Homo sapiens: one gene and its partner. The protein of the gene in region 1 purifies or fractionates together with the protein of each later gene. This does not show direct contact. Each region holds a gene or a part of one and is shown in the gene's direction. Other genes may lie near its edges.

The links.
Region 2: the proteins of CD99 (region 1) and OSBPL11 purify together in Homo sapiens (co-immunoprecipitation; one large-scale study listed by IntAct). This does not show direct contact.

Annotation. Positions count from the first base shown.
Region 1 is NC_000023.11:2,689,312-2,694,592, forward strand, and holds the start of CD99 (CD99 antigen isoform a precursor), read left to right. Parts: upstream 1-1,983; 5' UTR 1,984-2,049; coding exon 2,050-2,116; intron 2,117-5,281. UniProt on the Homo sapiens protein: Involved in T-cell adhesion processes and in spontaneous rosette formation with erythrocytes. Plays a role in a late step of leukocyte extravasation helping leukocytes to overcome the endothelial basement membrane.
Region 2 is NC_000003.12:125,532,570-125,537,264, reverse strand, and holds part of OSBPL11 (oxysterol-binding protein-related protein 11), read left to right. Parts: intron 1-4,695. UniProt on the Homo sapiens protein: Plays a role in regulating ADIPOQ and FABP4 levels in differentiating adipocytes and is also involved in regulation of adipocyte triglyceride storage. Weakly binds 25-hydroxycholesterol. Interacts with OSBPL9 to function as lipid transfer proteins.

The DNA of each region.
Region 1 (5,281 bases):
TCTGACCCTAGCACCGGAAGGGTTCCTGTTCAAATAAGAACTTGAGTCTTCACAATTCTTTATCTTAACCCAGACATTCTTTTCTATTGATCCCAGGACTTTAAAGAAACCCAAGCAATTGCCAATCAGAAAATTCTAAAATCTACCTATAAGCTGGAAGCCTCCTGCTTTGGGTTGTCCCGCCTTTCTGGACAAAACCAATGTGTCTCTTAAATTTCATTGATGTCTCATGCCTCCCTAAAACGTATAACACCAAGCTGCACCCCGACCACCTTGAGGACACGTTCTCGGGACCTCCTGAGGGCTGTGTCATGGGCCATGGTCACTCATATTTGGCTCAGAATAAATCTCTTCAAATATGTTAGAGTTGGACTCCTTTCTCTTTTTTTCTTTTTTCTTTCTTTTTTTTTGAGACGGAGTCTCGCTCTGTCACCCAGGCTGGAGTGCAGTGGCCTGATCTTGGCTCACTGCAACCTCCATCTCCCCGGTTCAAGCGATTCTCTTGCCTCGGCCTCCTGAGTAGCTGGGACTACAGGTGCACACCACCACACGCGTCTAATTTTGTATTTTAGAAGAGACAGGGTTTCACCTTGTTGGTCAGGCTGGTCTCCAATTCCTGACCTCAGGTGATCCACCCGCCTCGGTCTCCCAAAGCGCTGGGATTCCAGGCGTGAGCCACCGCGCCCGGCCTAGTTTGACTCTTTTCGTGGACAGTTTGAAGTGTGGAATGCAAGAATATTCAGGGTTATTTGTCAGGCTGCAAAGTTGTTCCACTACCCTGCGGGAAAATGGATACAATTTTAGGCTTAGGTGTTAACAGATAACATTGTTAAGTGTGGGAAGGGCGACAACTGCACTGCAGCTGTGGCCAGTGGCGCGGGAGGGTGTCTAAACTCAAAGCCCACTGGAAGGCGAGTCGCCCATGACCAGGACTAGGGCCCAGGTGCCCCAGATAGAAGGCACCTCGTTCCCTATTGCCCCTCACTAACTCCCGTGACCAGGAGTCCCCACTCCCAACCTTGTCCTGGGGATTCTGGGGAGAAACTGCCCCAGCGCAGAGGCTACTCCAAGGGTTGTCCTTGGTCCGGCGCAAAGGGTTCGTCCGCCACCCTCCCGGCTGCGCACCCCGCGCTCGGACGCTCTAGAAAGGACTTGGGACGGGGGTTGCCTGTGGAGCGGGGGCCTAGGCTTCCTGAGCAGGGAGAGGATTGCACTTTGCTCCCCTTGGGGAACTCCCTGAGGTGAGCAGCGGGGAGGGGCCCCCATACTTTTCCCAGCAGGGGAGCCGGGAGTTTCCTCTGCTCCCACTGCAGAGCAGGGGAGGGTCCCTGCTAGGGGCGGAGAAGGGGCTGCAGGGGCGAGTGGGGAGGGGGGCTACACGTTTCCAAGAAGGGCGGCAGTTTCGTGTCGCTACAGTTGCAGGCGTGCATTTAGGAGGCTGTAGACAGGGAGGGACCCGCACTTTCCCGAGCAGGGGAGCTGCTGGGAAAGTTTGTTTTTTTGCTCCCACTGGAGACCAGGGGGTGAGGGGCGGAGAAGTGGCTGCAGGGGCGAGTGGGGAGAGGGGGCTCTATGTTTCCAAGAAGGGCGGCAGTTTTGTGCCACTACAGTTAAGGGCCGCCCTCGGGCGTGCATTCAGAGGGCTGTAAACCGGGAGGGACCCGCACTTTCCCGAGAACGTTGTAGTTCACTTTGCTTCGGGTCGGCGCCGCCCTGGCTACGGCCCTGTGGGTGGGTGAGGGGGCGTGGGCAGTTTCCTGAGAAGGGGCGGGGCGTGTACCGTACTCCCCTCGGCGCTGCCTGGGCCACCCCCGCCCGCCTACCCCCTCTGTCTCCTCCCCGGGCCCGGCGTTCCCGCCCCTTCTGTGCGCGCGTGGAGGCCGGGGCGGGGCGGGCGCAGCCGGCGCTGAGCTTGCAGGGCCGCTCCCCTCACCCGCCCCCTTCGAGTCCCCGGGCTTCGCCCCACCCGGCCCGTGGGGGAGTATCTGTCCTGCCGCCTTCGCCCACGCCCTGCACTCCGGGACCGTCCCTGCGCGCTCTGGGCGCACCATGGCCCGCGGGGCTGCGCTGGCGCTGCTGCTCTTCGGCCTGCTGGGTGTTCTGGTCGCCGCCCCGGGTGAGCGAGCGGAGGGATCCGGGTTGGGGGACGCGGAGGGCGCGGGCCGGGACTGGGGATCCGCTTGAGATGCGGCGTTGGGGGCGCCCCGCGGGGACACCCGGAGCCTCCTCCCTGCCCGGCAGGACGCGCTGTGCCCACGGGGGCCCAGGCCCGGAGGAGGCGCCCACTTTCTCCCCAACGCTTTTCCTGGAGCCGTTCCAGAGAGAAAAGTCAGCGTTTGTTGTCGGAGTTGCAAACTCTTACATGTGGGGCGGCCTTGGGAGAGGTGCGTCCGATTTTTCCCAATCTAGGGGACCTTCTTACAGATCTCTCTCCCTTTGCATGAGCCCCTCACCCCACCCCGTTATCTACCCCCAGGGTTTGGGGACCTGCGTCTTCAGGCCGCGCGCGGAGGCCGCCCTGGAGTTGCCTGTCACAGCCACGCCCTGCGTCCCGGGCCTAAATTTGGAATCGCTAGGAGCCTGAGACCCGGGTGGTGGGGGGAAGGGAAGGAAAAGTTAGAAAAAAACTTTGAGCCCTGAAAATGTTCAAAAATACTCTGTGGATGCGGGCTCCGGGAATTTCAGCGCGTGCTGTGCGCCAAGCAACACGGGGCGCAGAAAGAAACGTGTGCTTACCAAATTGTCCATCTGCGGCGGTGGAGAATTCGGAAAACAGAAAAAGTGGGCAGGGAAGAAAGAGCCACGGTCACCCTCCCACGCCCTAAACCGGGCCTATTTCTAATTATTACTTTAATCATGTTTTTCTGTTTCCCTCCCTTTGAAACGGAAACGGAGACCCTGCCGGATGTGGTATGTTATAAATTCTTTTTTCATGTTATAAATTCTTTTTTCAATGGTCAGTGCATTTTTTGCTCTTCGTATGGGCAGGCTTTTAAGTAGACCGGCTTGCGGGCAGTGTGGACTTCAGGACGGGCCTTATCAGGGCTGGACGTATTTAGGAAGGAGACGCGGGAACGCCCGGCCCTGGGGAGGACGGAGGAGGCCCGATTTGTGTTGATAGGATCTAGCTCAGCCTAGAGCTGCGGTGACTAGGCCGGGTCTCTATTTTTAGGGAGGAGTTGCTAATGGATTTACACCCTCTTTAAAGGGGTCCCGGGTATCCTAGAAATTGTGCTTTCACTTGGTAGAGATTAGAGATAATGAAGCCTGCTCCGTAGAGGAAAACTTGGAGGACTTTCCAGCCTGCAGGGGAGGTTCCAAGCAGAGCTTCCTGTTTCTCCCTTTTCTTCCTAAATGTCCTTCTTGCGGGCAACCTGTCACCACGGACGGGATGGCTCTGTAGGGTTTTATCAGCTGCATTTGTTCCCCAGGCACCTGCAGATGAACGGGTTTTTCACTTGTCTCTCTGCGAATGCATTCCTTCATCCTTCATGCCTGCCTTCCTTCTTTTGCACCTACTGTGGGCTTGGGGTCAGGGAAATATATCCAAGGGAGTGCTGGTGGCCTAAGAATTCAGTTTCCTGGAGAACAGAGGCATCTGAACAGGCAGACGGGAGACAGGGCCACAGGGACCTTTATAGTTCCATCACGAAATAACTCAGGGGTTCCCAGTGGTAAATCTTGGTGAGGGGCTTGGCTGGATTTTGAAGCCCTAGGGACAGATTTGCCGGCTGGTCTGGCGTTCCAGGTCATTGGAGCAGAGTGAGTGGAAAGCCTTATATTCTCTAAGCCCCAAACAAGTCGTTGCACAGTTTTTTTGTTTTTGTTGGTGGTGGTGGTTTTTTTTTTTTGGACGGAGTTTCACTCTGTCACCAGTCTGGAGTGTAGTGGCACGATGTCGGCTCATTGGCGTTGCACAGTTTTTAAACCCACAGCAGTGTTCATCTGGAACTCCTGATTTTGGAAGCAGACTGGGCTTAGGAACTCCAGCTGCTGATGCTTTGAGTAAAGGGAAGAGTACCTGTCTATGGGGTGGGTGGGTAGGGAAGAGCAGTGGGATAGGGGCATAACAGGGGCCAACCTATCCTTCCAATTGCAGAGGAGGGCCTGGCCGTCAGCACTGATGGATCTCCTTGAGGGACGCTTCTCACCCCTTCTTTGCAGTCTGACCCTGCTAGAGATGGAGACAGAAACAGCCTGTCCCAATAATATTAATACACGTTTCATCGGGAAAGTTGACTTTTGAGTTGGTGATGCTCAGAACACACTTTCTTATAGCAACGTGCATCAGGCTGCAAAACCCCGTTGAGCCTGAAGTAGGTTCTCAGACTGGTGCTGATAGCTCTGGCCTGATCTCAGAGTGTTGGGGACCCTGTGTTCCTTGGTTCCTTCATAAATTCTCAGGGGTACAGGTGGGATGTGGTGAGGGATGGATGGACAGAGGGAGGTGTATAGAGGAAAAGAGGAGGCTTCAGCTTTGTAGAGAGCAGGATGTCCCCACAGGGCGACGTTGGCCCCGAGGAGACACTTTGTGATGGTTGCAGACATTTTTGGTTGCCACCCTGGGGTGGGACATCCCACCATCCTGCAATGGGTGGGGCAGCTTAGGGAAGCTGCTCAGAATCTTTCAAGGGCCAGGACGGCCTCCAGCACAAAGAATTCATCTGGTCCCAAATGCCAGTGGTGTTGAGGGTGGAAAACCCTGAGGAGGGCTTGGGAGTTGCATGTATGCGCTGATTCAGGGCTGCCCCTGCAGTTAGGAGCCTGCCGTCCCGACAGTAGAGTCGCACACATCCGATGCATCCCTGCTCTCTGGCAAAGGCTGATTTGCCCCACCCCCCGGGGCAACGGCACAGCGGCCTGTGCGGTTTGAAAAACTCCAAACATCTACGGAACCGACATCTCTTGAACAATACCAGGCCTCTTCAGGATTCCCTCGCCCCAGTAGAGCAAGTGTGGGCTTCGTTGTTTTTTTTTTTTTTTAACTCTCTCCAGAGCTCTTGTCTCCTGCCCCTGTGGGTGTGTGTGGAAGTTATTAGGAGAATGTTTCTGGGCAGAGGAAGTGGGTTTTATCATCCAGCGAGTTTGCCTTGATTTTCCATCAGCGCGTTTGGCTCTGGTAAAAGTTGATTGCTTTGCATTTAACTCCCTACTTTAGGCCGAGCACGGTGACTCAGGCCTGTAAATCCCAGCACTTTGAGAGGCCGAGGGCCGGTGGGTCACATGAGGCCAAGAGTTCGAGACCAGCCTGGCCAACATGGCAAAACCCCGACTCTACTAA
Region 2 (4,695 bases), on another chromosome or scaffold:
TCGCATGCCCCTTTCTCTTAAGATGTCCTTGAAAAAGCAATACAAATTATTAGTTTTTTTAAAATCTGGATTACTGAGTACATGTCTTTTTTTTTTTTTTTTTTTGAGACAGGGTCTCACCCTGTCACCCAGGCTGGAGTGTGGTCGGGCGATCTCGGCTCCCTGCAACTTCCACCTCCTAGGTTCAAGTGATCCTCCTGCCTCAGCCTCCTGAGTAGCTGGGACTGCAGGCATCGACCACCACGCCTGGCTAATTTTTTGTATTTGTAGTAGAGACGGGGTTTCACCATGTTGGCCAGGCTGGTCGTGAACTTCTGACCTCAAGTGATCCTGCCACCTCAGCCTCCCAAAGTGCTGGGATTACAGGCATGAGCCACCGTGCCTGGCCGAGTACATGTCTTATTAGTATTCTGTATGACAAATTGGGAATATAAATAAGTATTTGTGCTGGCTACCGAAGAAATATAGTAGTTATCTGGAGGAAGAGCACTTGTAAAATTTTTTGAGTTACAAGCAGAATTAATCACTTTGTTCATGAAATACCATGTTTACTTAAAAGAATGATTGATAGACAAACTATGGTTCTTCTAATTTCAATGTTAGGTAGACATTTTTCTTGTAAATGAAAGACATGAATGTGATACTTAAAGAAAAACAATTGATGGTATGTTACTAATAATAAAATTTGAGCTTCAAGGCAAAATTAGAATTTTAGAAAATTGTATCTGCCACCATGAACTTGAAAACTTCCCAATTAGTTTTCTGGTGAACTTGGTGCTTATATTATTGAACGTGATTTTTTAAAATATTGTATAGTATGTCAACATCTGGAAGATCTGCATAACTCAATGAACCAGTATTTTTCAAATGACTAATGCATGATATTACAGAATCATGCATGGATAAATGATCCATTCAGGATGCACATTAGACCAGTGGATTTCCATATAAGTTATTTGAAAAAATATTGACATTCTTAAATTTTCCACATTGCAACTGGCCTTTTTAAAATTACCAGTTGTCGAGTTTTGAAACAGTATGAAAGAATTGAATTATTTGAAAAATCTGTAAAAATATTTCTTCTCTTTTTCAAACTGTATCTGTGTGAGGCCAGAATTTTTTTTTTTTTTTTGAGATGGACTCACTCTGTCACCTAAGTTGGAGTGCAGTGGCATGATCTCGGCTCACTGCAACCTCTGCCTCCTGGGCTCAAGCGATTCTCATGCCTCAGCCTCCCAAGTAGCTGGGATTACAGGTGCACACCACCACACCCAACTGATTTTTTTGTATTTTTAATAGAGATGGGGTTTCACCATGTTGGTCAGGCTGGTCTTGAACTCCTGATCTCAGGTGATCCGCCCACCTCGGCCTCCCAAAGTGCTGGAATTACAGGCTTGAGCCACCATGCCCGGCCCAGATTTTTCCTATATATACTTTAAATCAATATATCACCACAGATTGAATGTATGGGCAGATAAAGAGATGCTTCTGGGCCGGTGTGGTGGCTCACGCCTATAATCCCAGCATGTTGGAAGGCCAAGGCGGGTGTGTCACTTGAGGTCAGGAGTTCAAGACCAGCCTGGCCAACATGGTGAAACCCCATCTCTACTAAAAATACAAAAATCAGCCAGGCATCTCTACTAAAAATACAAAAATCACCTGGCGTGGTGGCGTGCACCTGTAGTCTCAGCTACTCGGGAGGCTGAGGCATGAGAATCACTTGAACCCAGGAGGTGGAGGTTGCAGTGAGCCGCCGTTGAACCACTGCACTCTAGCCTGGGTGACAGAGCCAGACTGTCTCAAAAAAAAAAAAAAAAAAAAAAAAGATGCTTCTGAATTTTATTTGCTAAAATTTTGTAATGAATTTTATAGTTTCTATATACATGAGGGATATTGCTCTGTTCTTTTCTTTAGGGGAAGGTTTTGAATTACAAATTACGTATGTTTAATATATAGGGCTGTTAAGGTTTTCTGTTTCTTCAGTGAGCTTTGGTAGTTTGTCTTTCAAGGAATTGGTTCATTTCAGCTAATGTGTCAAATTTATTGTCATATAGTTCCTAATATTACCTTATTTTTTTATCTGTGTAGGATCTATAGTGATATCCCCATACTTATTCCTTATATTTGTAATATCTTTTTTCTCATCAGTGTGACTAAAAGTTTATTAATTTTACACAAAAAACCAGATTTTGGCTTCACTGATTTAATCTATGTTTGTTTTCTTTCTCATTGAATTTTGCTCTTTTATAAAATCTCTTTTTTTCTCCTTACATTGTAAATAATTTGCTTTTTTTTTTTTTTTTTTTTTTTTTTCTAATTTCTTACAATGGAAGCTTAGGTTAGGGGTCAGCAAACTTTTTCTGTAAAAGGCCAATTAATATTTTAGCCTTAGTGGACCAAATAGCCTCTCCCACAGCTACTCAACTCTGCCCTTATAGCATGAAACATCCATAGACAATAAGTCAATGATGAGACATTGTTAAATTGCAATAAAAAATTATTTACAAAAATGGGCTGTGGGCCATAGTTTGATCCCTGGTTTAGCTCATCAATATTTTTTTCCTAAATGTTTAATGCTGTAAATTTTCCTCTGAGGACTGCTTTATTTCTATCTGATGACTTTTTATGTGTTTTCATTTCGAAATATTTTCTTATTTCCTTTGTGGGTTTTTTTTTTTTAACTCATGAACTTATTTACAAATGTGTTGATGATTTCTAAATGTTTAGAGATTTTCCAGCTAGCTTTCCATTATTTATTTCTAATTTAGTTTCATTTTGGTGAAAGAATATACTTTGTATGATTTTAATTCTTTATTTAGGTTTGTTTAATGATTCTGAATATGTTCTGTCTTGGTAAATGTTTCTTTTTTTTTTTTTAAGACAAAGTAGTGTCTTACTCTGTCGCCCAGGCTGGAGTGCAGTGATGCAGTCTCGGCTCACTGCAACCTCCACCTCCCTGGTTCAAGCGATTCTCATGCCTCAGCCTCCCGAGTAGCTGGGACTACAGGCGTGTGCCACCACACCCAGCTAATTTTTTTATATTTTTAGTAGAGATGGGGTTTCACCATGTTGGCCAGGCTGGTCTCAAACTCCTGACCTCAAGTGATCCACTCACGTCGGCCTCCCAAAGTGCTAGAATTATTCATGAGCCACCACACCTGGCCTTGGTAAATGTTTCATGTGCCCTTGACACGAATGTGTATTAAGCCCAAGAGTTTGAGACCAGCCTGGGTAACATGGCAAAACTCTGTCTCCACAAAAAATATAAAAATTAGTTGGATGTGATGGCATGTGCCTGTAATGCCAGCTACTCAGGAGGCTGAGGTGAGTGTGTTCTATAAACGTCAGGTCAAATGAGTTGACAGTATTTTTCTAGTCTTCTGTAGTCTTACAGATTTTCTGTGTATTTATTCTATCAGTTGAGTTTAGTTATTGAGATTGGTTATTAAAATTACCAATTACAATTGAATATTTCACTTTGTAGTTCTGCAAGTTGTTACTTCATTTTATTAGAAGTTCTGTTATTAGGGCAGGCATTTATATTTAGGATTGTTATGTCTTGATGTTTCTGTTTTTGTTTTAATGTCTTTGGTTATTTATGGAGAATTCCTTATAAATTCATTTTTATTTTTGAGCCATCTCATGTATCATATTTTTTTAAAAGGATATTTGATACTTGATTTTCAGAAATGTGTTAGGAAACCTTTTGGAGCCATTAAGATACATATGTAGCCTTAATTCTTTAAATTATAAGACCTTTGGCATACTATCCAGCACTTTGGGAGGCCGAGGTGGGCGGGTCATTTGAGGTCAGGAGTTCGAGACCAGCCTGGCCAACATGATGAAACCCTGTCTGTACTCAAAATACAAAAATTAGCCGGGCATGGTGGTGCACGCCTGTAGTCCCAGCTACTCAAGAAAGTGAGGCAGGAGAATTGCTTGAGTCCGGGAGGCAGAGGTTGCAGTGAGCTGAGATGGTGACAGTGAGACCCTGTCTCAAAAAAAGAAAAAAGAGAAGAGACGAGAACAGAAGAGAAAGAGGGAGGGAGGGAGAGAGAAGGGAGGGAGGGAAGGGGAGGAAGAGAAGGAAGGGGGGAGGAAAGAAAGGAAGAAAGAAAGAAAAAACAGATGTTTAGTAACTTTCTCGAGTAGTACAGTCATTACCATAAATAAGTTTTAGAATATTTTCATCCTACCGTAAGATCTCTCTTGTTCATTTACAGTTAATCCCCATTACCCCCAGCCCAGAGAACCACTAACTTTCTGTCTCTATAAATTTGCCTTTTCTGGATATTTCATATAAATCATACAATGTGTGATCTCTTATGCCTGGCTTATTTCCTTAGTATAACGTTTTTGAGGTTCATCCATGAAGTATTAATTGCATGTATCAGTGGTTCATTGCTTTTTATTGCTGAATAGTATTGCACTGTATGGATATATCACATTTTGCCTATCCATAATACTGCTGTGAACATTCTCCTACAAGTCTTTGTATGGACATTTATTTTCATTTTTCTTGGGTAAATACCCAGGAGTGGAATTGCTGGGTTTATGGTAGTTTTATGTTTAACTTACTACATTTTTTTCACATGTATATCCAGTTGTCCCAGCACCATTTGTTCAACAAACAGTTCTTTCCCTAAAGAAGTGTTGTGGCAGTTTTTTTTTGTTTTTTTTTTTTTTTGCTTGAGA